2 separate regions of the Homo sapiens genome follow, and region 1 is linked to region 2. A link means that fine-mapping ties the variant in region 2 to the expression of a gene that starts in the linked region. Tissue or cell type: whole blood. Region 2 holds a variant in brackets; the other region holds the start of a gene. All regions are shown on one strand. Distances are from middle to middle. Region 1 holds the start of PPP1R7 (protein phosphatase 1 regulatory subunit 7). Region 2 holds the start of ANO7 (anoctamin 7).

The links.
Region 1: PPP1R7 starts here. The variant in region 2 is fine-mapped to the expression of PPP1R7 in whole blood (TOPMed, PIP above 0.99).

The regions. Positions count from the first base shown.
Region 1 is chr2:241,143,552-241,159,058 of GRCh38, forward strand. PPP1R7 (protein phosphatase 1 regulatory subunit 7) reads left to right here and starts at 6,916. Exons shown (of 10, transcript NM_002712.3): 1 at 6,916-6,996; 2 at 9,925-10,053; 3 at 14,256-14,311; 4 at 14,933-14,998. The coding sequence starts at 6,945. It overlaps PASK (PAS domain containing serine/threonine kinase), which reads right to left and starts at 5,921. Exons shown (of 18, transcript NM_015148.4): 1 at 5,863-5,921. RefSeq lists enhancers at 4,875-5,034, 6,548-6,707, 14,760-15,260 and silencers at 5,288-5,337, 5,388-5,447, 5,508-5,867, 6,998-7,337.
Region 2 is chr2:241,176,821-241,192,327 of GRCh38, forward strand. It overlaps PPP1R7 (protein phosphatase 1 regulatory subunit 7), which reads left to right. Exons shown (of 10, transcript NM_002712.3): 10 at 5,827-6,832. The coding sequence ends at 6,003. It overlaps ANO7 (anoctamin 7), which reads left to right and starts at 11,857. Exons shown (of 25, transcript NM_001370694.2): 1 at 11,857-11,946; 2 at 13,237-13,351; 3 at 14,374-14,431. The coding sequence starts at 13,244. LOC105373971 (a long non-coding RNA gene) reads right to left here and starts at 11,602. Exons shown (of 3, transcript XR_924064.3): 1 at 11,456-11,602; 2 at 9,144-9,288. RefSeq lists enhancers at 9,409-9,931, 11,127-11,811, 11,812-12,495, 13,429-13,929, 13,930-14,430. The variant C/A (reference allele first, on the strand shown) is at 7,634.

The DNA of each region.
Region 1 (15,507 bases), 33 kb before region 2:
AAAAAAAAGAAAAAAAAAAAGAAGCTCTTTCCAAGAAAAATACATAGGAAGATATGGGAAAGAGGGAAGGAGAGAGAGAGGAAAACAAAGAACAGGGTGGGAAGGAGCCATGAGGGAAGGCAGGGACTGCAGGTACACACCAACTGAAAATACTCCCAGGTCATGATGAACCCATCAGCACGTGGGGGCTGCACAGCTCCCATGGTCTCAGCTTTCCCCTAAACAGTGAGTCCTGACCATCCGACCAGCTGTGCACAGAATCACCTGGGTGCTGCCAACAAGTGAGGTCGCGGGGGCCATGGCCAAGAGGCCATGTCTCCTAGAGACAGGCCTGGCACCAGAGATTTGTATTTTTAGCTTTTCTCTTATACATGATTCAAATGCTGATACAGGGTGGAAATACAGGAAAATCTCACATACTCTTCCGAGTTCCCTCTCATGGTGACATCTTACAGGAGAGTGTCACAGCCAGGAAACTGACTTGATACCATCCATCAGCCTCGTCCAGATTTCAAGGCATTTACCTGCAGGTGTGTGTGTGTGTGGGTGTGCGTGTGTGTCCGTGCGTGTGTGTGCGTGTGCACATGTGTACATGAGCGTGTGTGTGTGCGCGCATGTGAGCACGTGTTCCATGCAGTCTTGTCACATGTATACATTCATGTGACCACCCTGCAGAGTGGAGATACTTAAGAGTTCCATCCTGCATATTGGCAAGCACTTGAAACACAAGTACACATTTACCAATACCCTGTCCTCATGGCCAAACTCAACAAAAAGAGCCCTTAAAGCAAGAAGATTTCCTCTACTGGCAGGAAGCCCCCACCTGGTCATCCAGGCTTTAGATAAACAGCAAGAGGAGGCTGTGGCCAATACCAGAACCATGGCTGGAGTTTCCCCCACGAAATGAGGAGACCCTGGGGCCAAGGCAAGCCCAACCACACCCCATATACCCTCTTCTGGACCACCTTCTGGGTATCCAGAACCCCAGAGTTCCCAGCCAAAGGGTCTGGTGCCCACTTCTAAGACACACACAGGCCTCTTTCCACCCAGGTCCTCCCACACTGGCACACCTATAGCCGTGAACTGGCTGAGGAGCAGCCTTCCAGGAATAGCGAGCTTGGACAAGCTAGCAGGATGCCCACACGAGGCCCTTCCAAGACAAGGCAGGCCTGGGGTGAAGAGGAAAGGGGAGGTGGCCCTCCCAACACCACCTCTTCCAATATGGAACTCCAAGGAGTCCCCCCTCCTTGCCTTATCCTAGCATCTGGTGGCTACTGGCCATACTGGCCATCTTTGGTGTTCTTGACCTGCAGCTGCGTCACTCCAGTCTCCGCCTTCGCCATCACAGAGCTTCTCCCTGTTTGTTTGTTTCTTTTTTTTGAGACAGAGTCTCGCTGTGTCGCCCAGGGTGGAGTGCAGTGGCGCGACTTCGGCTCACTGCAACCTCCGCCTCCCGGGTTCACGCCATTCTCCTGCCTCAGCCTCCCGAGTAGCTGGGACTACAGGCAGCCGCCACCACGCCTGGCTAATTTTTGGTATTTTTAGTAGAGTCAGGGTTTCACCGTGTTAGCCAAGATGGTCTCGATCTCCTGACCTCGTGATCCACCTGCTGCGGCCTCCCAAACTGCTGGGATTACAGGCGTGAGCCACCGCGCCCGGCCGACTTCTCCCTGTTTGTATGTATCTTCACATGGCCATCTTTTTTTTTAACTAGGAGATGAGGTCTCACTATGGTGCCCAGGGCATAAAAGATCTGATCTGTGGAAGTCAAAACACTAAACTTTTTAGCCAGGCAGGTCTCGTGGCCTGCACCTATAGTCCGAGCCACTCTAGAAGCTAAGGCAGGATAATTGCTTGAGCCCAGGGAGATGGAGGCCAGCCTAGGCAACAAAGCGAGACCTGTCAAACCAAATAAAATATAAAATAAAATCACTAAGTTTTTAGGAGAAAAGAGGCTATCTGTAAGACTTTGGGGTAGGGAAAGTTTTCTTAAACAAGGCACAAAAAACTCTAGCTATAAAATAAGATTAATAAGTTTAACGTTAAAATTGAGAACACATCACACCTGTAATCCCAGCACTTTGGGAGGCCGAGGCAAGCAGATCACGAGGTCAAGAGATCAAGACCATCCTGACCAATGTGGTGAAACCCCATCTCTACTAAAAAAAAAAAAATTAGCTGAGCATGGTGGCACACACCTGTATTCCCAGCTACTCTGGAGGCAGAGGCAGGAGAATCGCTTGAACCTGGGAGGTGGAGGTTGTAATGAGCCGAGATGACACCACTGCCCTCCAGCCTGGCGACACAACCTGGCAGGTGGAGGTTGCAATGAGCTGAGATCACGCCACTGCACTCCAGCCTGGCGACACAGCGAGACTCCGTCCCCCCCAAAAAAAAGAAAAAAAAAAATGAGAACACAGCTTCACAAAGAATACCATAAAGAAAACGAAAGAACAAGCCACAATTTGGGAGAAGATATTTGCCACATACATAACCAACAGAAAATTAATATCCAGAATAGCTTTAAAAGATCAACTATTTAAAATTTAAACATTTTTAAAAGACACATGGCCCAATAAAAAATGTCAAGAAATAGGAACAAGCGTTTTACAGGAGAGGAAATCCTAATCATGATGATGTTATACCTACTAAGTCAGCAGAAATGAAGAATCTAGTAATACCCAATGTCAAAAAGGATTTGGATCAACAGGAACTCTTAATACATTAATATAATCTCTTTAGAAAACAATTCAAGTGAAACATTTGTCTATATGGATACAGCACTTTTCACTTAGATTTATATTTCAGAGAAATTTTTGCAAACAGATAAGAAGACACCAGAATGTTCGGGACAATATGGTTCTCAATGGCAAAGAGACAGGCAGAAAAAAGGGAGGGAAGAAAGGGAGGGAGTGCGGGAGAGAGGGAGGAAAAAAGGAAATGAAACCCAAACACTCTTTAACAAGAAGATAGATTTTAAATTCTGGTATATTCATACCACTAATTACAGCAGTGAAAACAAATAAACTACACACAAGGGTGAATCTTAGCCATATACGAGTGGAAAAAATCAAGTTACGGAAGACAATCAGCAGGAGGATTCCTTTGTCATGAAATAATCTAAATAAGTAGTTCAGGGAAACACACCTATGTAATTAAACTACTTCTTAAATAAGAGACTGGTAAACCTAAATTTCAGGCAGGTGGTTCCCTCTGGGTCAGGCAGGTGCAAGAGTGGGGAAGAGGCACAAGGGCACAGGTCCCCTGATTTCCTAGGGTGATGGGTTCAAATGCATCCACTCTGCTGGTACAATTCATGACTAACACTGCCTTTATTCTTTTGTATGAATAAACTGATACGGCCAAAAAATTCAGAGACATTCACACACAAACCCAGCCTAGGACCCTGGAAGGCAAAGGCTCTGCAAACCTGCAGATGTGTAGGAAGCTATTACATATAGGGTTTGGGGTTCGAGTGTGCAGCTTTCCTACAAGCAGCAACAATGAATGGGACCTTTAGTTACAGGTTTACATCTCCTTCTCTAAGCATCCAAATGCACTAATTATTGCCATAATAAATAACAATGACATGATTATAGTGTGAGGCAGTTTTTTCTACTTTTAGAACCAACCTATAGACAAAGCTCAGGACACTTAATTATAGCTTCAGAATACATTGTAAATGTTGTAAAACCTTACTTTCTTAAAAAAGTAATATAACTCTTCAGAATACATTGTTAGAAAACTTTAATTCCTAAAAAATATAACTCTTCAGACTGCAATGTCAATGTTACAAAACTATTTTAAAAAGTCATATACCCAGTACTTTGGGAGGCCAGGCAGATTACTTGAGCCCAGGAGTTCGAGATCAGCCTGGGCAACATAGGGAGACCCCATCTCTACAAAAAAAAAATTAAAAATTAGCAAGGTGTGGTGGCACATGCTGGTAGTCCCAGCTGCTTGGGAGGTTGAGGTGGGAGAATCGCTTCAGCCCAGGAGGCGGAGGCTGCAGTGAGAGGACACAGCACCACTGCACTCCAGCCTGGGCCACAGAGCAAGACCCTGTCTCAAAAAATAAAATAATAAAAAAGTAATATAACTATTCAGAATATATTGTAAATGTTACAGAAGTTTCTTTGTAAAAGTAACTAACATGAAATGGAAAGGGGGAAAAAAAGCAAAGGGAGGGTAAGGGCATGCAATTTTTTGTCCTTCATGGGAGAAAGTAAATAAATACCAACTAAAGTTGTGGAAGTTTAATTAGGTTACTGAGAGTTACAAGCCTATCCAGGAGGGAAACTGATGGGACCCTCTGCGGGAGCGGGGAGGACAGCAGGAAAGATGCATCCTTTTTCCCGCTGTGCCTCCTGGGCATCTGAAGTCCACGTGGGCCAGTTTGTCACTGAACAGCATAGGCCCCTGGAGCCTCCCGTGCACTCCACAGCCACAGCCTGGCCTCAAGAAAGAACAGAGTCTGGCTTCACATGACCTTAGATCACTAAATTTTGACTCAGACGTTAACCAGAAATACCTGCACGTCCAGGCCCAAATTTTTAAAATTGTCCTTTGTATCCACTGTGAGCTGCAGACACGGGAACCCAAACCCAGCAGACAGCACCTAATGGTGCCACCGAGTAACCATATTCCCATTGCTAGTTTTGATTCCAGAAGACACAAGTGACCCCACCTCAGACCAAACAGAAGCAAGGACAACTTTGCAGGGAGCATCTCGGCGAACTTCTAGAAGCAACTGTCCCCCTCCCACCAGAACATAAGCTAAGAAGCAAACAGCTCCCATTGCTGTCAGCACAGCTGTACAACAAAAAGGAGAACCAGTTTCAGGATGAGGCCAACAAGGTGAACAGTGCAGTAGAACACAGCAAGGATGTCAGTCCTGGAGGAGGCACCTGCAGAGCCGGGCCCTACCAAGCAGAGTGAAGAAGTCTTTCAGAGGCAAAGCCTCCCAGAGAGGAGTTCAGTACCCAGAAGAGTAGGTGGACGTGGGCCTGGAAGGGCCAAGCATGAGCCCAGAGCCTCCTATGCCTGCCCAAAGTCTTAATTTTATCCCCAAAATGAACTTTTAAGGATTCAATGCTTAGGAGTAACATGGCCAGATATGCATTTTACAAAGATTACTCCAGGGACCATGTCGGTGCAAGGCTGGAAAGCAGGAGAAAGGCTACAGTAATCCAGGCAAGAAATTATAAAGTCTTAAATTAAGGTAGCAGCAGAAAGATGAAGAGAGGGAACCCCTAAGAGAAAAATGGACATCGAATGGTACTGAGATGCGGAAGGTAAGGACGAGAAAGGCCTCAAGACGGCAGCGCAGGCCCCTGCCGTACTCTGGGAAAGAAAAATTAGTGAAAAAATTAAGGCTCAAGTCCAGGTCTTTGCTGTAACCACGAGCGCCGGCGGCGCGCGCCCCCGACCCCGCGGCGCCGGCTGAGCCCGCAGGGACCCACACGCCCAGTGCAGGAGGCTGGCGGGATCCGGGCTGGTTCTCCTGGAGCTCGCCCCGCAGGGCCGGCTGCGGTGAAGAGAGCGCAGGGTCCCGAGGCGACCCGAGGCGCGGGGCCTCGGCGCCCACCGGGCAGGCTACACTGAAGGGCACCCCGAAGACGCTGGGGGCGCGGGGCCCAGGGCCAACGGCCGCAACCCCGCCGCGATTTGGGCACGGAGAGGACGCGGGCTCGGCGGTGCGCGAAGGGCGACGGGCGCAGGGGCGGGAGACCCGGGGTCGGGCTGGTCTAAGAGTCGGGCGGCGGATCCTCCTGGGCCAGGGGCGCGGAGCCGCGCAGGCCCCACAGCCGCCCTGGGGAGATGGCGGAGCCCGGCCCGCTCTCCCGAGCGCAGGTATCTCACCTGGATCAGGCGAGGGTCACGCCAAGCCGGCTACACACCACGGAAAGGAGCCCTTCCGCGCTTTTATCCCACCGACCAATCGCACAGCGACTAGCACCGATTGACAAGCTCCACGGACCAGCCACTTGCGCGTATGGGCGGGACTAAGCTAGCCAGAGTCTAGAAGCCCGCGCTAAGGGTTGCTAGGGACGCACCAAACACCCCTACGGCGCTTCGGAGGAGCCAAAGGAATAATGGGCGCCTCCGCCCCCGGGCCGGGCAGATGCGGTTTCCTCCCGACTCGCGATCAAAATGGGTGAGTAGCGCAGAGCTCGCCTCTTGGAGGCCTCTTTCTGAAGGCGGAGGACGCGGGGCGGCTCGTTCATGGGCCGGGTGGCTCCGCAGGGTAGACGAAGGCTGCAGCGTCCGCACTGGGCTGGGAACGACTTGCAAGGGGAGCCCAGCTGGCGCCCCGGAGCCAGCCAGCTGGCTAGCGGCCCCACCAGCGCAAGTGCCCCGCACCTGCCCGCCTGCTCCGAGCGTCAAGAGAAGGCGGCATTTCGCATGGGTAAAATCCGCGCGGGGACGCCGGGAGAATGTTGTTGCTCTTGCCGTTCGGCCCATTGTACAGACGCAGCCAGCGAGGCTCGCAGAGGTCAGGGATGCACGTAGGACTGGCCCGCACCTTGCAGCCACGGAAAGATCCGCCTGGCCCGCGGCCCCTCCACGCCTCCGAGGTCGAGACAGTGACATAAGTCAACTCTCAAGCCCAGGGCGTCTCTCCACTCTGCCTAGACGTCCACTCCGTCTGCCTGCAGCTACGGCTCTGTGCGTCCCGCTTCGACTCCCTCTGCTTTCCTTCCCAGCTTCTCGCCTCCAGACTGTTCCGGCTCCGCCGCCTGAAATTACCTGCTCTGGGGGAGGCGCGGCGCGCGGCCTCATGACGGAACTACAACTCCCATGAGGCGCTGGGCCCACGCAGGCGCGGCGCGGCTGAAGTCGCCGCGCCGGAATCCCATTGGCAGGGCCGGCTCTGAGGCGGGAGCCCTGATTGGCTGAGGGGTCTGAGGCGACAGATTCCGGAAAGGGGAAGAGCAGCCAACATGGCGGCGGAACGCGGCGCGGGGCAGCAACAGTCGCAGGAGATGATGGAGGGTGAGCGGCCCCTGCGGGCGGCGGCCCAAGGGCCCAGCGGGCGGGGGGAGCTGCGGGCTGGAACTGCTCCGTGCCTGAGAGAAACTCCACGTCCTGCCTCTGGCCGCCGCCGCGCGGCCCCCTGACAGCTGACAGCCGGACCCGGGGGAGCGGGGGAGGCGCTGGACCTCGGGGGAGCCCCGGCCCGGGGGCGGCAGCGGCCGGGAAGGACCCAGAGCTAGGGGGAGAGCGGCGGCGCGAGGCCAGGCCGGGGGTGGGGCTGAATGGGACGCGGTGGCTCCATTCAGTCCAGTTGGAGCCTCGCCCCGAGCCTCTGAGATTGACGGGCGGGGGAGCCTCCTCGGTCAGCTGACGAGGAAACTGAGGCGCTGGGATCTACCAGAGTCTGCTCCTTGGTTCACGTGGTGAGGGTGGAGAAGGGTCTTCTCTTGAAATCGAATGGACTGTTGGGAAGGGGTAACAAGGAACCGGAAGATTGAGTTACACAAGGTGATACCTGTTTTCAAAGCTGTCATAGTTCCAAAAAGTCTGAATTCAACTTTCTTCCTCCTCATTCACTTTGTTGGAAAAAAAAACCACATGCATATATGTATATGTTATACGTACACATGTGTTTATAATTTTCTGCATATCTGTAGGTACAGTCATATACGTGCACGTACAGTATGTGTGTAAAAATGCGTGCACACACCCACTTAGCAACTGGGGAATCAGTTGTGTCATCAGCTTAAGTACTTTTGGGTCCCATGGTTTGGTGAGGGGTACAGACCTCCCAGAAGAGCAGTCACTGCCTTATGTGAAAGGGGTAGGGAAGAGGAATGTGGAGCTGGGGAAGGAGGGCGGGTGCAGCAGGAAGGCCTGACATGTTAGGGAGTGGTGACAGCTGCAGAAGCAGGGCGAGCTCTGAGCTGGAGCCTGAAGAATAACTCGAAGGCAACGAGGTTGGGGATAGGGTGAGGGAAAAGAGCAAGAATCACTCAAGACGGAGAAAACTGCTGTCAAAAGGTGTGGAGGAGAGTTTGACCAAATCGTATGTGGTGGGGATGGGGGCGGTAGTGTTAAGGGTCTTGGACTTCATACCCTTTGAGTCTTTTTAAGAAGCGCCTCTTCATATCCTCCCACTCCCTCTTCAGCTGTTTCCATGTCTTGGTAAATGACAGATATAAAAGCCCGGCTTTTCTCACTGTCCCACTCCCACCCATGTCCTGTTAGTCAAGGAGCTCTGACTTTTACTTTTGAAAGTATCTCCAAATCTCCGATACGTCCTCCATTCCCATTGCCAGTACCTTAACTCAGACCTTCATCATCTCTAGGCTAGATTGATTGTCCCTGTTCACCAGCCCATCATCCCCAGTACACCAAAGTCATTTTCTTACATGCAGAGCCACTGTCCCATGTTCCAGACCCTCTCTGCTGCCCTCAGGCTTCACTTTGGCCAACCTTCGTTAGCTAAGCCTTTGCTAACCTCACACCACTCCTCCTCTTACTGGGGTTTTTGTGCCAGATTGTCATGCAGTAGAACTTTCTCTCCCTGAGCCTGGACCACCAAGTGACCTGTGCCTGGTGGTGACTAATTTGTTATATATCTACTGCATGTCATGCACGTGCTAACTGCTCTTGTGCCTTTTCTAATTTAACCGTGACAGCAACTTGCTGAGGCATAGGTGCTATACTAGCTCCCTTCCACAGACTAGGAGATTGAGGCTTTCAAATGGAAACGATTTGCCAAAGCTGCATCTCTAGCAGCAAGATGCAAACTCAGGAAGAGCATTCCAGAAATACTTTTGGACTCAAAAGATCAGATTTGGATTTTAGAATTAGATCAGACTCTCTGGCAGGGGAGAATAGGTTAAGCAGGGCAAGACAAGTCACAGAGACGAGTTAGGAGGCAGGGCAGGAGCCCAGGCTGCAGCTAATAAGTAAGTGAGCCACCGTCATTGCGGGGGTAGGGAAGAAGAGATGGATTTGGAGGTTTTGGAGGTGGGTTTTATAAGGACTTGTTTTCTACAGCAATCCTTTCTTGGGTTTTACTTTGCTAGGCTAAGCGGGAAGTACAAAGATGAAGTTGAACTTTTTCCCTCAAAGAGCACATCTCTTTGTAGATAAACCATAGTCAGGAAAGAGTATTTTCAGTATGGTTGATAATTCCAAGTAATGTGTTAGTGCCTCATGTTTTCCAGACAGACTTCCAAAAGAGGTCATGAGTAAAGTTATAAAAAAGAAAAATGATTTGACAACCTTACCAAAGAATTTTTACCTGACACATTGAATTGCCTTATTCTTTAATTCAAAAAATATTTATGAACCTTTAAAAGCCTTAAGTTGCTAACACTCTGTCCAGTGTCCAGTGTGAAAGCTCATTTCACACCAATGAGCTTTCTGTGGGCGGTCAGCACTATTGGCTGTATTCTCCTTTTCCTTAGTGATCCTCCCTGCCCACAGTCTGATTTGAGTTAGTCTTGATTTCTTTCAGAACGTGGGCCTGTGAACTTGGCTGGTTTTCTTAGCCAGATAAATAGTGGAGCATGGATGGAGGTATGTGGCAGAAGGGTCACAGTGGTGATCCCCCAGCCCAAAAGTGAAAGGCACTCAGGAGGTGCTTCACTACCGGGTTCCATTAGTGGATTTAATCACAGGTGATCCAAGGCTTTCAGAACACTGGGCAATTCTTCACAAGCTCCTTGAGGGCAGAAGTAGTGTGTTCCTCACCTAAGTATCCATGTGGGCTCCACACTCTGCTCCCCATTCTCCCCGCGGCCATATGCCTCAAATGGTGCTGGGACATGGGAGACACTCAGATGTTCGTTGAACTGGATTCAACAAACATGTTTAAATGAAATCCTTTTGACTTACAACCGGGTGTTTATTATATGTTCCTCAAAGTCCCATAAAGTGGATGTGAATTCTCATTGACATGTGTGGGTTCAGTTGACAGGCGGGTCGAGTCTGAAGAATCCGGCGATGAAGAAGGGAAGAAACACAGCAGTGGCATCGTGGCCGACCTCAGTGAACAGAGCCTGAAGGATGGGGAGGAGCGGGGGGAGGAGGACCCAGAAGGTACCAGGCCCAGCTCCCTTGGGGACATCTGCTGGTTGGGGGATGTGGGCTGTGCTGCACGTGGTCTGGCCCTGGGTGTGGGTGCTGTGTCGGTCTGGAGAAGGACTGCCGTGCTCCTTAGGGGTCCTCAGTGGCCCAGGGCAGGTGGATATGCTCTTTGAGGTGCTCCTTCAGCAGGCTGACTCATTGATGGCGTTTGCAAAAAGGATGTGGTTTTTTCCAATTCCACTGAAGGCAAATCCTAGCACAAATATGGGTACTAGTATGCCGTCTGAGACAGAACCATGACATTGTTGGCCAGATGCAGTGGCTCATGCCTGTAATCCCAGCACTTTGGAAGGCCAAGGCGGGTGGATCACGAGGTCAGGAGATCAAGCCCATCCTGGCCAACATGGTGAAACCCTGTCTCTACAAAAAATACAAAAATTAGCTGGGCGTGGCAGCGTGTGCCTGTAATCCCAGTTACTCAGGAGGCTGAGGCAGGAGAACCGCTTGAACCCAGGAGGTGGAGGTTGCAGTGAGCCGAGAACACACCACTGCACTCCAGCCTAGGTGACAGAGGGATACTCCTTCTCAAAAAAAAAAAAAAAAAAAAAAAAAGGAAAAAGAAAAGAACCGCAATATTGTTATATTAACCATATGTTTAGGAAATGAGATTCGAAATAAATGTTATGGCTGACTGCTGTGTTTCTATGTCCTACCATAGCAATAGAAACCTTTAATCTCTGAGAGAAATTATTTCTGAGTCTTGCCTTACCATTTTTATAGGCCTGAGGATTGACTTCTAAAGTGCCTAGATGTGGCCGGGCGTAATGGCTTACGCCTGTAATCCTAGCACTTTGGAAGGCCAAGGCGGGTGGATCACTTGAGGTCAGGAGTTCGAGACCAGCCTGGCCAACATGGTGAAACCCTGTCTCTACTAAAAATACAAAAAAAAGAAAAAAAGAAAAATTAGCCAGGCATGGTGGTGTGCACCTGTAGTCCCAGCTACTCAGGAGGCTGAGGCAGGAGAATCGCTTGAACCAGGGAGGCAGAGGTTGCAGTAAGCTGAGATCACACCACTGCACTCCAGCCGGGGTCAGAATGAGACTCCATCTCAAAACAAAAAAGTTTCTGAACAGTATGCATGCATGTATGTACTTTTACCTGCTAAAGAAAGAAAACACATCAAACGGGCTGAGTCTGTCCAAACAGCAGGTTTAAGAAGGATCTATACATTTTGTGTTTTCTAGATTTGTATACAGTGTATGAATAATCATGCATCCCTTATGAAAATAAATTTATGAAGAAACAAACCTAATTTTTAAAATAACATTGTGCTCTCTGTGCCAGCAAAGATGATTGGTAACTATGGCAACCTACTTTTAAGTCACAAGGAGATTACCACAAAAGTACCAGTCACATTCACTTTGGAACTTTGAGGCTGATGTTCTGGAAGTGATGTGGGTGGAATAAAGTGCATGGGAGTGATAGATGGAAGCTTCCGTCATCGCCTGACTTAGTCACCAACAGTGGAGCGGTAGGAGCCCCCGCTATCCTCAGATGGGTGCTGCTGAGACATTGGGTGTTTATGGAGGACTTGAGAGTTGGCAGAGCAAGCCTTGTGTGCTTTCTTTCCCTGGCTCACTAGCACAGGCTAATCATGTTGTCATCATGTTCTGTAAGTACACCAGTGTGGTAATGTGTTATAGATGAGGAAAATGAGACTCTCTGCAGCTTGTCCAAGGGCACACGGCTACAAGGCAGACCAGCTGGCCTGGCCTGGAAAAATCCAAGTTTTTTCTTCGAGATGATTAGCTGATTATGAATTTTCTGGGAATATGCATTTCTAGCCCTTAGAGGAGCCAAGACTTGCTCCTACCTGTATTTATTTAAGTCTTAAATTCAATTAAAACAAATTTAATCATGTCAACTGTTACCTTCTACCTATTTTCCTTAAATTATTTTTAAAATATGATGAATATATAATACACTCAGAAGGGCATTCTAGGCTGGAAACCTTGTTTCAGAGGTTAGCTGACATTTTGAGTGGTGAGCGGCCAGCCCTGCTGGCTGTATTACAAACAAGACCCCTTAAAGCCATGCGACCGTGTGTCCTGAGGAGCCTGGCACAGCCCGTTTCTGCCTGCTGGCCCAGCATAACTGTGCCCTTCTGCTCTCAAAGGGTCCTGGTTTGGACTACATGACCTGGGCGCCCTGCCTTAATTGTAGCACCTCTTCCAGTGCAACTTCCTGAGTTTATGAACGGTGACTTGACACTGTCTTTTGAGGTGATTTGTTATCTATCTCTTGGTTTTGCCCAGTTCCTTTTATTTAATTCTTAGGTTGGTATCCTTTACAGTTGTGGATAAACTATAGTAAACTTTTTTTTTTAACTAACCACAGTTGATGGTTATAGAAAAGGCATAGTGGAAAACAATGAAGTGAATGCAACCATGTGGGATCATGACTTTGTTAAGCTGGTCTGATGTCAGGTGCTCCTCTCAGAGGCCTCCAGGTGAGAGGAGGAGCCAGGCTGGAGGAGCCAGCCCTTGGCATGGGGTCCAGGGCTGTGTGAGCTCACTCCCCTGCAGAAGCAAGTGCACGTTTGCTCTAGGAAGAGCCACAGTAACAGCACTGACAGCCCTGTAAGGTAGTGACAATGACAATCTGTTTACAGGAGAAAGAACATCCTATGCATATAATTCACAGACTCCAGACTGGGAGAAGCACTACAAGACAAACAGCTTGTTTTCCTACAACAGAAAACTGCAAGGGGAAAAAAGAAATTTAAGAAAAATGCTGGGCTGGGTGCAGTGGCTCGTGCCTATAATCCTGGCACTTTGGGAGGCCAAGGTGGGAGGATCACTTGAGGCTAGGAGTTCCAGACCAGCCTGGGCAACATAGCGAGACCCTGATTGTACAAAACATGGTTTTAAAAAATTAGCCAGGCATGGTAGCACACACCCGTAGTCTCAGCTTCCTGGGAGCCTAAGACAAGGATTGCTTGAGCCCACAAGTTCAAGGCTGCAGTGAGCTATGATCACACCACTATACTCCAGCCTGAACAGCAGAGTGAGACCCTGTCTCTTAAAAAAAAATTAATTTAAAAAAGTTTTTTAAAAGAGAAATACCATCTAGTCACAATATACAGCCTTATTTGGATCATAATGCAAGTAAACTAAGGAAAGAAATGTTAAGACAGTTGAGGAAATACGAACACTGACAATCTTTGGTGATATTGAGGAATTACTGTTAATTTTTTTAAGTGTTTTGAGGGGTGAGTGTGCGTGTTTGTGTGTCTGCATGAGTCTGTGTATACCACTGTTGTGCATGCGTGTGTCTGTGTAGTGTGCATACGTGCCTGTGTGTCTTTGTGCATGCGTGTGTGTGTGCATCTGTGTGTGTCTTAGTCCTTTTCAGCACACATGCTGAAGTAGGTTCCAATGAAATGAAATGAGGAAGTGCTTAACAGGGAAGCTGTCGCCTCAGCAGGGAGAGCAGCTCTCTCCCTCCTCCGCACAGAGGATGCCGGCTCCGGGGTAGAGAGTCCTCGTGAAATCCAATGGGCTTCTCTGCTGGAGTGAGTTCACCAGTCTCCCCACTGAGAAGTGTGTTTAAATTATTCAGTGAGCTTCTTTGATCCTATCTGTTGAACTATGTTTTGTTTTGTTTTGCTCTTTGCAGAGGGAAGTGTTTGTAGATGCTGGGCCACCTTCCAAAGCAATAAAAGGCCCATCCTAGAGCATCTGATGTGCCCAGCATGGTCTAGATTCTAATGGCCTGGTTTATTGCCACAAACAAAAAGAGAAAAGCTACATGGGAGGCAGGCTGCTGCCAGTTCTGCAGCTCTGGGAGTCACGGAAAGGCAGTAGTGCTACCCTGCTCACCTGCACTCAGCTACTTCCTCCCCTCCTTCCCACTAACAGGTTCAAAACACATTTCCTTTCTCAGGAAGTTCAAAGGCACAGATGGATGTTTGGTGACCTTTGCCAATATCTGAATTCAGGAAATTCAGAATGCTTAAAACATCACTATTGTTGGAGCAGGGTCTAACCCTGCCACATTCTCCAGGTCCTCAGCAAACCTTCCCATTGGTTCCTCCTCGGGGTTTGAGCTGGCTCTGGGCACCAAACAGCCCCAGACCTCAGCCAGAAGCAGCTCTTCACCAGTGCCTCCTGTTAATGGGGTTCTGAACAAATCTCTTTTTCTTATTTTTTCAGAAGAACATGAGCTGCCTGTGGACATGGAAACCATCAACCTGGACAGAGATGCAGAGGTAATGCCGCCTGCTCAGCCCAGCCTTGGGCGTGGTGATGGACCACCCTGTCAGGTTATCTTGTATGAGATTAGTAAGTTATTTCCCTAGAGAGGTGGCCTAAGCCTCCCTTGGTTGAGTCAGAGTCCCGTGTTCATGTTTTTCTTACCAGTGATTGTTATCCCCATGTCTATTCGACCCTTGAGGATTGTGTGGCAGATGAGATGCCTTTGACTCATACATTGTCTGGGTCTGATGATTACATTATACATGAGGGTCCCAATGGCCCCAGGCTGTGTATGACTGGCCACTGGGCCTCCTGAGCCCACAGCGTGTCTCTGATGGTGATGGGATGGGGTGCATATCCTCAGAACCTGAGCTTATGTTTTGTGCATACAGGATCTAAGGAATGAGAAAAAGATGTCATGTACCAATCATTTTAAGGGCCAGTTTTACATAAAACTTAGTCATCACTAAGCCAAAGAGCCCCCGCAGCACACCTTGTCACTGACATCTGTCTGCTGCAGACCCACCTGGCACTGCCTCCCCCACTGCTGCCCACTTCCAGGCCGCCTCTTCTAGGACGACACAGGTCTCCAGCCACTTTGCTATAGCTGAGTATAGATTTCTGCTTTGTTTCAGGATGTTGATTTGAATCACTATCGCATAGGGAAGATTGAAGGATTTGAGGTACTGAAGAAAGTGAAGGTGAGAGGGACTCTTATGAGGGGACTATGACGCTCACCCATAGGATGTGGATAAGTCCAGAATCGAGCAGTCAGTCCTGAGTTGTGGTCCTTGTCCCAGCCTGTGGGCGGCGTGGCTGCCTCCACCTTGTAGCAGGCCTTTCTTTACTGGGAGCACAGCAGGTGTGAGACAGCAGTCGAGGGACTTGAGGCACAGCCCTGGGGCTGGCTCTCCTGAGCCCAGGCAGCCAGTGACCTGTGACTCTGGCCTGCCTCGGTTTCTGTGCCTGTGTTCAATTAGGCACTCGCTGACTTTTACAGTCCTCCGTGCCTCTCATTGGAATTTGTCAAAATTGAGCCCACCAAAGGTTCTTATGTTCTGCCAGGAAGTGGCAGACACCCACACCCCAGGCCAACGCCTCCCTCCCCAACTGGCCTGCTTGGTGGGGAGCCTGCCTCCTGCCTCCCTTTGGGTTCCCGCCCTTCCTCAGGTGTGTTAAGGAATTATAGCTTAGTGCCCTTGCCCACCTG
Region 2 (15,507 bases):
GGTGAAGACTCATAGAATGCAGCTGCAACCAGCCTGTGATGGCAGCAGGCACTCTCGTGACTACGGAGATAGCTGTGTTTCATACAAGTTTTCTGTAGGGCATTTAGAGCCTTAAAAATACCACATGCAGCTGGGCACGGTGGCTCACACCTGTCATCCCAGCACTTTGGGAGGCTGAGACGGGTGGGTCACCTAAGGTCAGGAGTTTGAGACTAGTCTAACCAATATGGTGAAACCCCATCTCTACTAAAAATACAAAAATGAGCCAGGCGTGGCGGCATGCACCTATAGTCTCAGCTACTGGAGAGGCTGAGACAGGAGAATTGCTTGAACCCAGGAGGCGGAGGTTGCAGTGAGCCAAGATCGTGCCACTGCACGATCAGGTCAGGAGATCGAGACCATCCTAGCCAACATGGTGAAACCCTGTCTCTACTAAAATACAAAAATTTAGCTGGATGTGGTGGCACGCGCCTGTAGTCACCACTACTCGGGAGGCTGAGGCAGGAGAATCGCTTGAACCTGGGAGGCAGAGGTTGCAGTGAGCCAAGATTGTGCCACTGCACTCTAGCCTGGCGACAAAGCTAGACTCCACCTTAAAAAAAAAAAAATCATAGAGAGCTTCCTAACCAAGATTTAAAAATCAGTGAAAAAAGAAAGAATAGGTATATCTAATTTTATAAAGCGTATGTATTTTGCATGATGAAAGAGTCCATTGGTCGCCTGAGAGGTTAAGGTTAAGGTTATTTTCTATGACATACAAAAAGTTCTTTAAAGTGAAAGAAAGCGATTCAATAGAAAAATAGGTGGAGGATAGCAATACACAGTTCACCAATATGATGCATCCCGCCCCTGCCATACGCGACTTGTTTCAAGCTGACATCCAGGGCCTGGAGGGTGGGCTGAGACCAGCACTGCCCTGCTCAGGCCCCCACCCTCTTCCCAGTAATCCAGGGGAAAGGTAGCATCACAGTGACCAAAGGCAGTAGCCAGGGGAGGAGAAACATTTGGCAGGAAAGTTTCCACCCTCATGGTGTCTGATGCCGGCATGGAGCCCATCTGCCCACTGCCCTGCTGGCACAGGGGCTTCCCCAGGACCCTCCCAGATGCTCTGTTGGCAGATGCTGCCCGCTCGTTTAAGCCAAGTGATGCCATTTAAATTACATTGCAGGCCTGCTCCATGCCACAGCTGTGCTTCCTCAGCCCTCTTGATGGAATGCTTTCCTGTAGGCAGCGCCCTGCACAAGCAGCCTGTGCCAGCTTGGCACCCCTGACCCAGGGCTGTCTGGGTGTGAGCTGCAAGGAGCGGGGGGCACAGGTAGGGGCTGCTCGAGGAGAGGCTGTGTGCCTCCCTCCCAGCATGTGTGCCTGGCCTGGGCCCACTTTCTGCTCCCCTTCAGTCTAGTGATGGCCATTTCATTAGGTTTCAGTTGCATTCCTTTAATTACAGATGAGTCTAACCCTGGCGCCTCTGTTTTCAACCACTTTGTCCTTTTGTTCCCTCTTGATACTTTCTGCTAGCTTTAGTCCAGTGCATTTTCCCTTTTATTATTAACTTATAGAGATTCTATCAATGAATGATACTAAACCTTAGTATGTCATCTGTGTTGCAGATACTTTACTTTGTCACTGGTCTTCAGCTTTTTTTTTTTTTTTTGAGACAGAGTCTGGCTCTGTCACCCAGGCTGGAGTGCAGTGGCGTGATCTCGGCTCACTGCAAGCTCCACCTCCTGGGTTCACACCATTCTCCTGCCTCAACCTCCCGAGTAGCTAGGACTACAGGTGCCCGCCACCACGCTCCGCTAATTTTTTTTTTTTTTTTTTAGACGGAGTCTGGCTCTGTCCCCCAGGCTGGAGTGCAGTGGCGCAATCTCCGCTCACTGTAACCTCCGCCTCCCGGGTTCAAGGGATTCTCTTGCCTCAGCCTCCCGAGTAGCTCACCATCCCCACGGACAGCTCTCGATGTGGCCGTGCCTGTGTCTGGCAGCCTCACCATCCCCACGGACGGCTCTTGATGGGCCGTGCCTGTGTCACGCATCTCCTTTGTTAAACTGTCATGGAGATTTTCAGAAAATAAGTGATTTTTACATTCTACCAGTTGTTTATGAAATGTATCTTAAGAATTCTACCCATCTTTTGCTTAAAACATTACTGAGTTTGGGGTAATTAATGTGAATTTTCTATAATATCAGCCAAAAAAATTGTGAAGGGAAATACAGGTATCCTATGTATGTATATGCAAAATACACAGATAGAAAACCCCATAAATACAAAATGCAAGTTTGGGTTCCAAAAACCAAAAGAGTCTGCCAGGAAAACGTCAGCCAAGAAGATGTTCTCTAGCAGAATCCCAGCCGTTGGTTCGGGCAAGGGATCAGCTGCTGAGATTACTGGGAAGGATGTTGAAGAAGGGATGTTTGCACACAGGCCCAAGGATCATGCCACAGAGAACTCGCTAATTGCAAAGGGAAAGCATGTTCCCAGAGTCATCTGGGGTCACCAGCTGATCTGCATGATAAAACTTAGCATCCCTAATTGTGGGACCACCTGAAGTGCTGTGTCCCCAGTGTGAGTCATCTGTGCAGTATACCTACCAAAAATGTTTAGTCTGATCTAACCAAGCATTCATACCTAACTTTGAGTTTATGGGAAGTGTAAGAGCTAGAAGAACAAGCTAAATGACAGTGAGGGATACTTTACAAGACAGTTCTTCAAGAAGCCAATTTTAGTTTTTAAAAAACAGTGTGAGAAGGACATGGGAGGTGCTCAAGATTAGAAGAGACTGAAGTGGTCCCTCTGGGGGAAAGGAATGTGCCCGCGCTCCCCAGCCAGGCTCCCTGACAGCCCCAGTGTGCAGAACTTGATAAGAGAAACATAAGGTCATCTTTTTTCCATGATGAGTGTAACATCTTTGCCCCATCCTGGGATTCAGGAGCCTCTGGAATGTCTATGGAGACAGAGTCTCATACAAGTGAATGTTTTTAGTTCCATTTTGGAAAAATGCAAAGATAAGAATCTCTGAAAGTTACCAGTATCAAACACATTATTTACACATTATTTACAATGCACCATTGGTGGTGAGTAGAATTCCCCGTGTTAGGTTTACTAAGTCCTGGAGAAAACTGCTCTGAGATTGGCAGTGCTATGGAAAATTACAACATCTGCAATTTATAAAGATGGTCCGCCCATCTAGACTAATAATGACATTGGAAAATGCTGTGATGTGTGAGACAAGAAGCATCTGGTGTGTGACAAACACAAATACATCACATATCGAGAAAGAAGGAGGTGACACAGCTTGAAGACCTCCCACGCCAGAGCTGAAAGCCTGAGTCAACTGCCAGTGGTGTTTTGAATCATTTTTTAAATAGACTATGCTACAAGAAAATCTTACTTCTTCCAAACAGTGTGATATTGCTACTTTCATTAAATGAATGTCCTTTTTGTGTGTTTTGTGGTAGAAGTGGTTAAGGCAGTGGTGTTCAGTCTTTGGGCTTCCCTGGGCCACACTGGAAAAAAGAAGAATTGTCTTGGGCTACACATAAAATACTCTAACGATCGCTGGTGAGCTAAAAAAAAAAAAAAAAAAAAAAGTGAAAAAATCGCAAAAAAATCTCAAAATGTTTTTAAGCTTACAGATTTGCGTTGGGCCTCATTCAAAGCCATCCTAGGCCATTTACAGCCTGCAGGCCGTGGGTTGGACAAGCTTGGTTTAAGGCGTGTGTGTGCATCATTTTCGTGACTCTCCACTTTAAGGGGCTCTTTCTGTTAACTGACCAGTGACCGGCCAATCACAGGCCTGGCAGGTGGATGGCTTCCCCTGTAATTCTAGTGTTGCAGGCTCTGCACTGGCCACACAACCAGCGGGGCGGTGCGAGTGTAGTAACAGAGTAGCATTTAAGAAGGTACGCTCACGTCCCGTCCACATGGAGGCACTGGTCGGGACAGCAGCAGCAGGGCACCAGCCCTGGTGGTGCAGCTCCTCCCAGCAGGTGTCAGTCCCTCTTCAAGGGCTAAGCTCTAGGATTTGGAATTCTTGGTTTCCCAAGGCTGGTACGCACTAGTCCCACAAAAGGTTCTGTGAAAATAGGGTCCCTCAGGCCAGGCGCAGTGGCTCACGCCTGTAATCCCAGCACTTTGGGAGGCTGAGGCGGGTGGATCACTTGAGGTCAGGAGTTCAAGACCAGGCTGGCCAACGTGGTGAAACCCCATCTCTACAAAAATACAAAAATTAGCCGAGCATGATGGCGAGTGCCTGTAATCCCAGCTACTTGGGAGGCTGAGGTGGGAGAATCGCTTGAACCCAGGAGGCGGAAGTTGCAGTGAGCAGAGATTGCCCCATTGCACTCCAGCCTGGGCGACAGAGCGAGACTCCCTCTCAAAAAAAAGAAAATAGGGTTCCTCAAACAGGCAAACCTGTGAGATGCACGTTATATTCCTCTCTGGGAAGCCCCTGACACACGGTAAGTTACTAAAGACAGCCTGGCTGTGACAGTGGACCTGGTGCAAAACTAGCCCTCCTGCCACAGACAGATAGAAAAATATGAAACAACTCTATTCAGGCAGTGGACAGCAGGCAGCACGCACCTGCAGGCTCTGAGGAGGGAGTTCCAGCGCGAGCCCCGTGATCACCCCACTCCTTACCTGGGATGTTTCCCAAGCAGAACACAGTACTTCTGAGTGGAAGAGGCAGAGATCAACATCTCTGGCAGCTAGAGTGTGCCAGACAGGGCCCCAGAGAGAAGGGGAGCTGTGCAGAGCAGAGGTCCAGAAGTCCATGCAGGGACCCCCCAGTCGGACCACAGCTGTGGGCAGGGCAGTGGGCAGTGTGGGCCCCAGAGTAGAACGCCCCTGCTTGCCTTCCGTTCCACATGGACAGTTCCCTTCCTAACTTCCCTGTAAAAGGAGTCGAAGTCTGTCACCCTATAACGAGTGCCCCTGCCTGTGCCCATTGTAGGTTCACAGTCAAGTCCAGCTGCCTCTTCAGGAGCAGTGCCCGTGCTCTTGCCACCGCGGTTTGCCTGGCAGGCCCTGAGGCCGGGCAGCTCTGAACATGTGATTTCTACACACAGGGTGTTTGAAAGGGAGGGTCAGACCAACAGGGTTTGAAGCTGGACTGGCTCCCCTTGTTCTGGAGATGGCACCACTGCACTCCAGCCTGGGCGACAGAGCGAGACTCTGTCTCAAAAAAAAAAAAAATGCAAGAGAACTCTTCCTGCCAAAGGCAGGTCCCTCCAACTGGGCATGGCAGGGCCAAGATGGTAAAATGTAGCCTGCAACTCAGACCTCTGAATCCCACCTGCTCACGATTTGTGTCCCTGCACTTGGTATTGGGTGAAAGCAGCAGCTGGGACTTCCTTGTGGAGAGAGCCATAGAGGTAATTTACAGAAGAGTTGAGAGTTTTAAGTAGAGCGGCCTCTGTCTGCTGTGTCACAGTGATGGCGCAGAGTGCAGCCTTGGGAATGATGGCTGAGAACTGGTTTGTAGAAAGTGCAGCCCACCCTGCTTTGACACTTGCCTATGGACAAGTGTAGCAGGCAGGTGGCCAGAACTGCTTTGTCCTTCCTCTGCTGACCTGAATGTGGACTTGGCCCCGTCATAGTGACTGGCCCAGGGTTGGCTATGGACAGGTAACTTGTACTTGGGATGCAGCTGAAGGTGGCCAGGATGCACCAAGAGGCCATGGAAGGTCCCATGAGGTGCCAGGGAAGACCCACACCTGCTCGCCATCTTCTGAGTGGGAAGGAGGAGGGTGGCTAGTGGACCCCACCAGAGTCGAGGGCTGGGCTGTTTGGTTCTAAAGGCTTTTCTGCTGTGTGTGTCCCCAGATGAACGACAATCTCCTTGAGAGCTGGAGCGACCTCGACGAGCTGAAGGGAGCCAGGAGCCTGGAGACAGTGTACCTGGAGCGGAACCCCTTGCAGAAGGACCCCCAGTACCGGCGGAAGGTCATGCTCGCCCTCCCCTCCGTGCGGCAGATCGATGCCACGTTCGTCAGGTTCTGAGTCCTTCTTGGCTCCTCATGTGGTCCCTCTCCTCGGAAGAACTGCCCAGCCACGGGTTTTTAACCCACCTGTTGCTCCTGAGGTCGTCACTATATCAACAGTCACAAACCCAATGGCAATAAAGGCACTGACGATAGCTGGCGCGCGCGACGTCACACACCATTTTCAGATGCCGTTGCAATTAAATCTTGCCACACTGTCCTCCTGGGTGATTGTTGACAGTTATTGTAGCCACAGAGAGAACATAAGACACGTTGCGTTCATTCGCTAGAAATCCCTGTTTCCTTCTCTCAGAAGGCAGTCACAGTCCCTACCTGAGTCGTGTGAAACACAGGGCCTGAGAGTGCTTTACAGGCATTCACGTGCTGTCCGAGTGGCATTCGGGGGCTGGCCTAGCTGGCCCTAGTCCTGGTGTGCAGGGTTCAGGCAGTCTTGACCTGCAACAACCGAGGTTTTTTAGTCTTTTAACCCAGCCATTTTCAATTTTTTAAAAATTAGGTAAGTTAAAAAAGCTGGGTAAAAGCTGACTCAGCCCTGTGTGCTTGTGTTCCTTAGAGCTCTCCTTCAAAGAGCGCCGGGCAGGGCTGACTGTTTTCACGTGTGCCCGTCAGTTCTCGCCACATCCCTTGCCTGTGGGTGAAAGCTCAGGTGTGGGGAGGGTGTCCTGTGTCCCACACGGTGCTGTGCTGCTGCCAGAATACGAGTCCCATTGAGCCTCTCCAAAGACGGCCTCCAAGGATCTGAACTCTTGGCCACTGGTATAGTGGCCTCCTGTTCTCACCCCATTGTTATTTTGGCTTTTTTAATATAAAATGTACATTGACAGACACCCGAAGTCTGGATTTAATGCTACCAGGGCATCGTCACCTCCCAGGGTCTCAGATTTCTCCTCCTGCAGAATGAGGGCCACATCATGTGGTCACCAAGGTCCCTTCTGCCTCCGGGACTCTAGACTCTAGAACCGTCTACTTGAGGAACCAGGACTCTAGAACCGTACTGTCCAATGTGGGCGAGGCTGCAGTGAGCCATGATTGTACCCACTCCAGCCTGGGTGACAGAGGGAGACCCTGTCTCAAGTTTTAAAAGGCTCCAAATTAATACCCAGCCATCTGTTCTTTAACAGACATTTTTACAAACATACAAAAAATGTGGAAGTGATGAGGAAAGGTATGCTAAATCCAGCACAATCCTAATCAAAATGCCATTTGATTTTTTTTTTTTTTAAGGAGTCATTCTCTGTCACCCAGGCTGGAGTGCAATGGCGCAATCTCAGCTCACTGCAGCCACCACCTCCCAGGTTCAAGCGATTCTCCTGCCTCACCCTCCCTAGTAGCTGGGATTACAGGCACCCGCCACCACACCCAGCTGATTTTTGTATTTTTAGTAGAGATGGGGTTTTGCCATGTTGCCGGGCTGGTCCCAAACTCCTGACCTCAGGTGATTCGCCCACCTCAGCCTCCCAAAATGCCGGAATTACAGGGGTGAGCCACCGCACCCAGCCACCATTTGATTTTTTGAGACACATTAAATTCTAAAATTTAATTTTTTTTCCTTTTTTTTCTGAGACAGAGTCTCGCTCTGTCGCTAGGCTGGAGTGCAGTGGCGCGATCTGTGCTCACTGCAAACTCCG[C/A]GTCCCGGGCTCAAGCGATTCTCCCGCCTCAGCCTCCTGAGTAGGTAGGACTACAGGCACATGCCACCACACCCAGCTAATTTTTATATTTTTAGAAGAGACGGGGTTTCACCATGTTGGCCAGGATGGTCTTGATCTCTTGACCTCATGATCCACCTGCCTCTGCCTCCCAAAGTGCTGGGATTACAGGAGTGAGCCACCGTGCCCGGCTTTTTCTTTTTCCTTTTTTGGCGAACAGGGTCTTGCTATATTGCCCAGGCAAGTCTCAAACTCCTAGGCTCAAGCTGTCCTCCCACCTCTGCCTTCCTAAAAGCTGGGATTATAGGCATGAGCTACCGTGCCCGACAAATTCTAAAATGTATATGGAAGAAAAAAGTCAACATTGTGATTCAATTCATTTTGAAAAAGAGCTGGGAGAGACGCTTTCCTACCAGATCCTGAGTGCTGCAAACCCACAGTGAGAGTGTGGGGGGAGGCCTGACCTAACAGCACCAAGACAGGGACACCTCAGCAGGAACCCAGGGGACTCGGGGACTGGGAAAAGTGTCCGGGGGTCGGGGAGGGGTGGACAGTGTCCTCATGATGTTGGCAGAGTGCACTATGTGGAAAAATGAACACTGCCCCTCCCTGGCATCACACACAGGATAGGCTCCAGAGCAATTGGTGATTCATGGGCGGTGGTGAAATAGGAAATCAGTAGAAAATAATGTGGGAGACTGGGCATGGTGGCTCGTGCCTGTAATCGTAGCACTTTCGGAGGTCAAGGCGAGTGGATTGCTTGACCTCAGGAGTTCAAAACCAGCCTGGGTAACACGGTGAAAACCCATCTCTACTTTAAAAAAACACAAAACTTAGCCGGGCGTGGTGGCAGCCACCTGTAGTCCCAGCTACTCGGGAGGCTAAGGTGGCAGAATCGCTTGAACCCGGGAGGCAGAGGTTGCAGTGAACTGAGATCTCGCCACTAGCACTCCAGCCTGGGCGACAGAGTGAGACCCTGTCTCACACCCCCAAAAAAGAAAAAAGAATGTGGGAAGGCGGATATGTGAGCTAGCAGTAGAGAAAACTCCCCAAGGCCGGGTGCGGTGGCTCATGCCTGTAATCCCAGCACTTTGGGAGGCCGAGGTGGGCAGATCACAAGGTCAGGAGTTCGAGACCAGCCTGGCCAACATAGTGAAACCCCGTCTCTACTAAAAATACAAAAAATTAGCCGGGCATGGTGGCAGGCACCTGTAATCCCAGCTACTCGAGGAGGCTGAAGCAAGAGAATTGCTTGAACCCAGGAGGTGGAGGTTGCAGTGAGCTGAGATTGCGCCATTGCACCCCAGCCTGGCCAACAGAGCAAGACTCTATCTCGAAAAAAAAACTCCACAAACACAACTGTAAGACAAGATTTTGATGGGTTTATTTACATAAAATTTTACATAGAACAAAAATAATGAATAATACCTGAATAATGGCAACAGTAGATTAAGAGAAGGCGTTTGCAGCTTTTAAAACTGGCAAGGCTTACCATTTAGAACTCCCACACATCAAATAAAGGAGACAGGAATCCTGACGGAAACGCAGGCCAAGGGCCAGAGTGGGCAACTCAGACACCAGGGGCCAGTGGCCTGTGTGGAGCCGCCGCTCACAGGAAGCTGGGCTGCTGGCTGCACCTGCAGACAGGAAGGTTAGAAAGCGGGCAGTGCAGGCATCCAAGAGTCTGTCCCCTGCGACCCAGCCACCGTCCGTCCAGCAGGGCTCCCATGTGGCTGGGGCGCAGTGCCAGGGTCCTCATGGAGGGAGCCCTGCACGCGCCTCCAGCCTCAGAAGGAGCCTCAGAAAGAGGCTGAACTTCAGTGTGGGCTCTTCACCACCACTTCCACCTCCACTAACTACACCCTAAGTATGTCCATAAATGTTACAGCCAGCCGGGCACGGTGGCTCACGCCTGGAATCCCAGCACTTTGGGAGGCCGAGGCGGGCGGATCACGAGGTCAGGAGATCAAGACCATCCTGGCTAACAAGGTGAAACCCCGTCTCTACTAAAAATATAAAAAATTAGCCGGGCGTGGTGGCGGGCGCCTGTAGTCCCAGCTACTCCGGAGGCTGAGCCAGGAGAATGGCATGAACCCGGGAGGCAGAGCTTGCAGTGAGCCGAGATGGCGCCATTGCACTCCAGCCTGGGCGACAGAGCGAGACTCCGTCTCAAAAAAAAAAATGTTACAGCCAAAGAAAGATGGTGCAGCAGATTCTGGGCCTGGGCTCTTCCCAAGGCCTGGAACCTGGCGGGCCCCCTGTGCTGGTTGCGGCTTTTCTCCCTCCCTCCCTTCCTTCCTTTCCCTCAGAAGTAACACAACTTGAAAAAACCACCCACCCAAACAGAGTTGTATGAAGTAAAAATGGAAAGACACTCCTCAGGGCCGAACCCCCTTTAGGTGTTGTGCGTGCACTGTCGCTGAAAGGGCTCCCACTGGGGTGTGGTCACCTCCAGCAGCCGGCCCTGAAGCTCTTGAGTAGACAGCCCTGAGGCCACCAGAGCCACTTTGTCACCAAGAGCAGAGAGCCAGGAGCTCCTGGGAGGTGGCATGTCTTCCTGGGAGGGTCCTTGGCCAATGACTGAGCAGAGTAAGAGCCTACAGTTGCATCCAGGTGAGGAAACGCTTCGTCTTGCCTCCCCTGCAGAGTGCCCATGGCAGGCTGAGGCCACCCTCCACAGGTCTTGGGGAGATGGTGCCCCGCTCATCCTCCCTCCCCTCCTGCCTCCCGACTCCTTTCCTGGTTTCTGGAGCACTTCCCCAGTCCAGCCCTCGTCCAGGGATCCACCTCAGGCGCCTGCAGGCTGAGCTTGGCCAAGCAGAGACCTCTCATGCAGATGCCCTGAGGCCCAGGGCCCCAAGGTCCTGCCGCCCAGGCTCTGCTGGTGCTGACAGGGAACCCGGCCTGCAGGGCCTTCCCGCTGTTCCGAGGCACAACACAGGTCCAAGAACAGGGCCCCTTGGGAGGTGCCAAGCACAGAGGGGCATAGGTATAAGGGAAAGCTGCAGCCAGGATGAGGGTCCGCCTGGAGGGATTTCAACAGGCAGAAGGGGGCACCTGGAACAGCAAGCTGAGCTTGGGGCTCCCCAGTGCAGTTGTGCATGGAGGGCGAGGAGCACGGGTGGTAGGTTCTCAGACACTGCCAGGCACCAAGGAGGAAAGGGGGAGGGGGAGGGAGAGGGGAAGAGGAGGGGCGGGGAGAAAGGATAGGAGGAGAAGGAGGAGGAGAGGGAGAAGTGGGGGGAGGGGGAGAAACAGGAGGAGGGGAGTGGGGAGAAAGGAGGAGAAGGAAGAGGAGAGGGAGAAGTGGGGGGGAGGGGGAGAAACGATAGGAGGAGGGGGAGTGGGGAGAAAGAGGAGGAGGAGGAGGAGTTGGGGGGAGAAATGATAGGAGGAGAGGGAGAGGGGAGAACGGATAGGAGGAGAAGGAGAGGGAGGAGTAGGGGGGAGAAACAATAGGAGGAGAAGGAGGAGAGGGAAGGTGGGGAGAAAGGATAGGAGGAGGGGGAGAAAGGAGGAGGGGGAGGAGGGCTAGGAGGAGAAAGAGGAGGGCTAGGAGGAGAATGAGGACGAGGAGGAGGGCGGAAAGGATGGGAGGAAGGCTAGGACCCCTCCTGTCCTTTTGCAGATGGGGCCCTGAGCATGGGATGTGCCTGAGGTCACCCCTCAGGCATTAGCAGAGCCAGCAGTGTGATCTGGGTCTCCCAATCTCCCCAGCCCCCGGGTGAAACCCTGGCCCACCACTCAGCACATGCTACGTAACCTCAAGGAGCCTCAGTTTCCCCCCACATAAACAGAGCTTACGAGGTCTGCCTGGCAAGGCTTCCAGCAGAGGTGGCACTTGTGGCTGTTCCTGTGGAATCCCACCTCCTCGAGACCCTCCAAGGCAGCAACTATGACAGCTGATGCCAGCCCTGAAATCTCTAAGCAAATAAGGTTCCCAGGAGGACGGCAGCATTTGCATGCGGGTGTGTGAAAGCCCAGCCAAGTGGGCTGCCTCTGTCTGCAGCTCTGAGCCCCACACCCCCTATTTAAACAAAGATAGATCCTGCTCCAGGAGCCGGGAAGCCTTGCCCTGGCCAGCTGTGCTGGGCACCTCCCCTGCCTGCTTCCTGGCCCACTTGCAGGCAAGGTGAGGGCATGCGAATGGCTGCCACTGCCTGGGCGGGGCTCCAAGGGCCACCCCTCCCCACCCTCTGTCCCGCAGTGAGGACGGGACTCTACTGCCGAGACCAGGCTCACGCTGAGAGGTGGGCCATGACCTCCGAGACCTCTTCCGGAAGCCACTGTGCCAGGTGGGGACCCAGCCTAGACGTGTGGGCCACAGGGAGAAGGTGGAGCGTTGGACTCTAGGGAGGCAGGGCGGCACCCCAGCCCACCGGGACTTTCACACACCCTGGCCTGTGGGGAGGCAGTGCCAGGGCCCGCCCTGGTCCCCAAAGCCCCTTGGGGCACGAGGAGGGACACACACTCAGTGCGGCTCTGGACGGGGTACACCCAGCTGGGGTTGGCTTCCTGCCTGCCCAGGGGCTCCCCCATGGAGCAGGTCCCTTCGTTGGGGTGGGGGGCATCCCCATTCTTTCTGCAGAGAGCTCTGAGGAGGGGCCCGCCTGCCCACCACAGAAGGATGGGGGCATGAGGGGCTGCTGGGTGGCCGAAACTCCTCGGGGACTTTCCTCCAGGAACACCCCACAGTCCGTAGTGAGGCTCCCAGCCTGGGGCCGGGGCCGAGTCCTAACACTGAGACCTGGCTCGGGCTTCAGGGTTAGGCAGGTGCAGGCGGCCCAGGCTCAGTCTCTGTCCCTCTGGGCCTCCGCTAATGTGAAGTGAAGGGTAGAACTAGAAGGCTGCCCCTCCGACCTCCTGCGGCGCCTCCATGGTCACACCCTCCGGTCATCGTCGCAGCTCCAAATGCCAGCCCCAGCTCGAACCCTCTCCTTCCAGGGCCACAGATGTCGTGCTCCTGGCCCCGTTTTGCCAGCCCAAGACTAGGAGCCACGGCACCTGTCCTCCCACAGAGAGAGACCCCCGGGGCGAAGGTGCGGGAGGAAGCTGGGACCCCCAAGAGTTGTGAGGCCGGGCTCCATCAGGCCCGCCTTGCTGGGGAGCTCAGGGCCTATGGGTCCTGGCACTGGGTCCTCAGGCCATGAGCGAAGGCAGGCGACTTGAGGGGTTTCCTGTCCCTGGCTCACATGGCTCCACCCTACGGATAAGAGAGGGAGAGGTGTCTGTACTCCAGGCCCACCTTTCTGGGCCTTCTCAGGCTCCACTGAGTACCCAGGCAGAGTGGACGGCATTCAGGGCTGGGGGACACGGGCACTCACTGGATGGACAGACAGACGCCTGCTGTGCCAGGCCTGCCAGACGCTCCCGCCCCGGCACTGGTTTCTTCCTGGAGCTCGTGGCTGGCTAGGGGGTTCTCCATGTGCTCATGGCCAGGAGAGTCTGCCGAGCCAGCCCAGCCCCATTCTACTCCGAGTCGAGTCTGTAAAGTGAGCTCACTGCAGGCAGTGTGGTGGCCCCAGGAACGGGTCTCACCCATCCCCTCTCTGACCCCCATCCCCACCCGGCCTTGCTGGGTGCAGGAGCAGGATGCTGCGGCGACGGGCCCAGGAAGAGGACAGCACCGTCCTGATCGATGTGAGCCCCCCTGAGGCAGAGAAGAGGGGCTCTTACGGGAGCACAGCCCACGCCTCGGAGGTAACAGCACCCAGGAGACTGTGGTGCGACTTGAGAGGTCCTCCCCTGCCTGGGTCTATGCCCCCACCCTGGGCCCAGAGCCTCTGGGGGTGGATGGGCATCACCGTGTTTCTCCTGCATCCCCCGGCAACCCCCAAGCCCTCGCCACCCAGTCCTCAACACACACAGTCAGATCACCGCTCTCCTGGCCTGGCCTGGCTGTGGAGAACCGAGCAGAACCCACTGATGTTCAGACAGGAGCTCCAGGAGGGTAAGGGGGGCCTGGCCAGGCAAAGGCAAGACCAGGGCGGGGCCCTCCCTGTGGTGTCAGTCCCAGTCAGTGCAGGGCCACAGCAGCACCCAGGGCCATCTGTAGGGCTCCACCTTGTCACTAGGAGGCCATGGATGCGCTGTGAGCCTGTGGGGAGAGGCTGGGTCCCGGGCCTTCAAGGCCATGCGGGAGGCCCTGGCCGTGGAGGGCCCTCTTCCTGGTTCTCCTGGGCCACACGTCTGCCCCAGCAGCCTGCGGGTGGACACGGGACCCCTTCCTGCCGCCCCAAGCACAGCTGAGATGAGCCTCCAGGGAGGGCACAGGGCCTCTCACCTCAAGCATCCAGACACTCTCGGTCGCCATGGCCAACTCTGTCCTCAGGGCCCCTTTGGGAGCAGTCCGGCTCCCCTCTGCCCCTGGAGGCCAGCAAGGCAGGCACCCCTGGTCCTGGCCATGCTTCCCGCCAACCTGACCCTTGCCATGGGCCTGGCCCAAGGAGGAGGGGAGCCGGCTGGAGGCCCAGGGCTGGTGGTGCCCTCTGGCCCTGCCTGCCGCTCCCCGCGCCTGCGCATCCTGTGCCCCCACACAGCAGAGGGGCTTCCCCCTCCACCCCCTACCCACCCGCCGAACATTCTTCTGTGGTCCTGAGTGTTCTGGGGCAGGGCGGGGACGGGTTGGAGGCGAGGACGGCTTCAGGGTGGGGCGGGGTGGGTGTAGTTGTCGAGGGCAGATGCTGATGCTGATATGCTTCTCCATCCTCCATGCCTTCCAGCCAGGTGGACAGCAAGCGGCCGCCTGCAGAGCTGGGAGTCCTGCCAAGCCCCGGATCGGTGAGCCCCTCCCAGCACCTGTACCACACCCGTGTTGGTCCTGAGGGTGGGGACACCACGGGGGTGCCCCCAGGGGCAGCAGGCTGGGGTAGCCTCCTCAGTAGCCACTCTGGGGCCAGTTGCTTGGGGATGGGGCACTGGGGTGAGGGCCTCGGGGTGAGCAAACCACAGTGGGAAGAACAGCAGGAAAGGGGGCTCCCTACTGATGGGGTGGGGCCGGAAGGGCTCTGGAGAGTGGACAGGGCTGCCCCCTCCCTCCTGCTCCAGTCCCCTCCACCATCCTCCAGCTGTTCAGCCACAACTCAGGTCATTTCTGACTCTTATCTCTTGCACTCCACCCCTTTTGTACCTTCAAAATCTCTTTGATCCACCCCCAACCCACTGCCTCTGTCTGCCCGGAGCTACCACCGACTCCAGGGGATTGCACCAGCACCAGCCGGGCTCCCAGCACCCACCCCGCCCACCCTGCTGTCCCCTCAGCACCAGAGAGACCCTAACCTCCTCCCACTAGGATGGCTACTACTTAAAAAAAATCACAAGTGTTGATGAGGATGAGCGGAAACTGGCTCACTTGTGCATTGCTGGAGGGAGTGTAAAATGGTACAGCTGCTAAGGAAAACAGCAGTTCCTCAGAGAATTCAGCACAGAGTTCCCGTAAAAGCCAGTATGTCTTCCCTGGGTGAGCGCCCACGAGCACGGGATGGGGGCCCCGGGGAGATATCTGTACACCCGCAATGTCATTCACTGTAGCTGGAAGGCGTGCATTCGTCTGCTGGGACTGTCATAAGAAGTACCACAGCCTGGGCCAGGCACAGTGGCTCATGCCTGTAATCCCAGCACTTTGGGAGGCCAAGGCGGGTGGATCACCTGAGGTCGGGAGTTCGAGACCAGCCTGATCAACATGGAGAAACTAAAAATACAAAATTAGCCAGGCGTGGTGGCACATGCCTGTAATTCCAGCTACTCGGGAGGCTGAGGCAGGAGAATCGCTTGAACCCAAAAGGCGGAGGTAGCGGTGAACCGAGGTCGCGCCATTGCACTCCAGCCTGGGCAGCAAGAGCAAAACTCCATCTCCA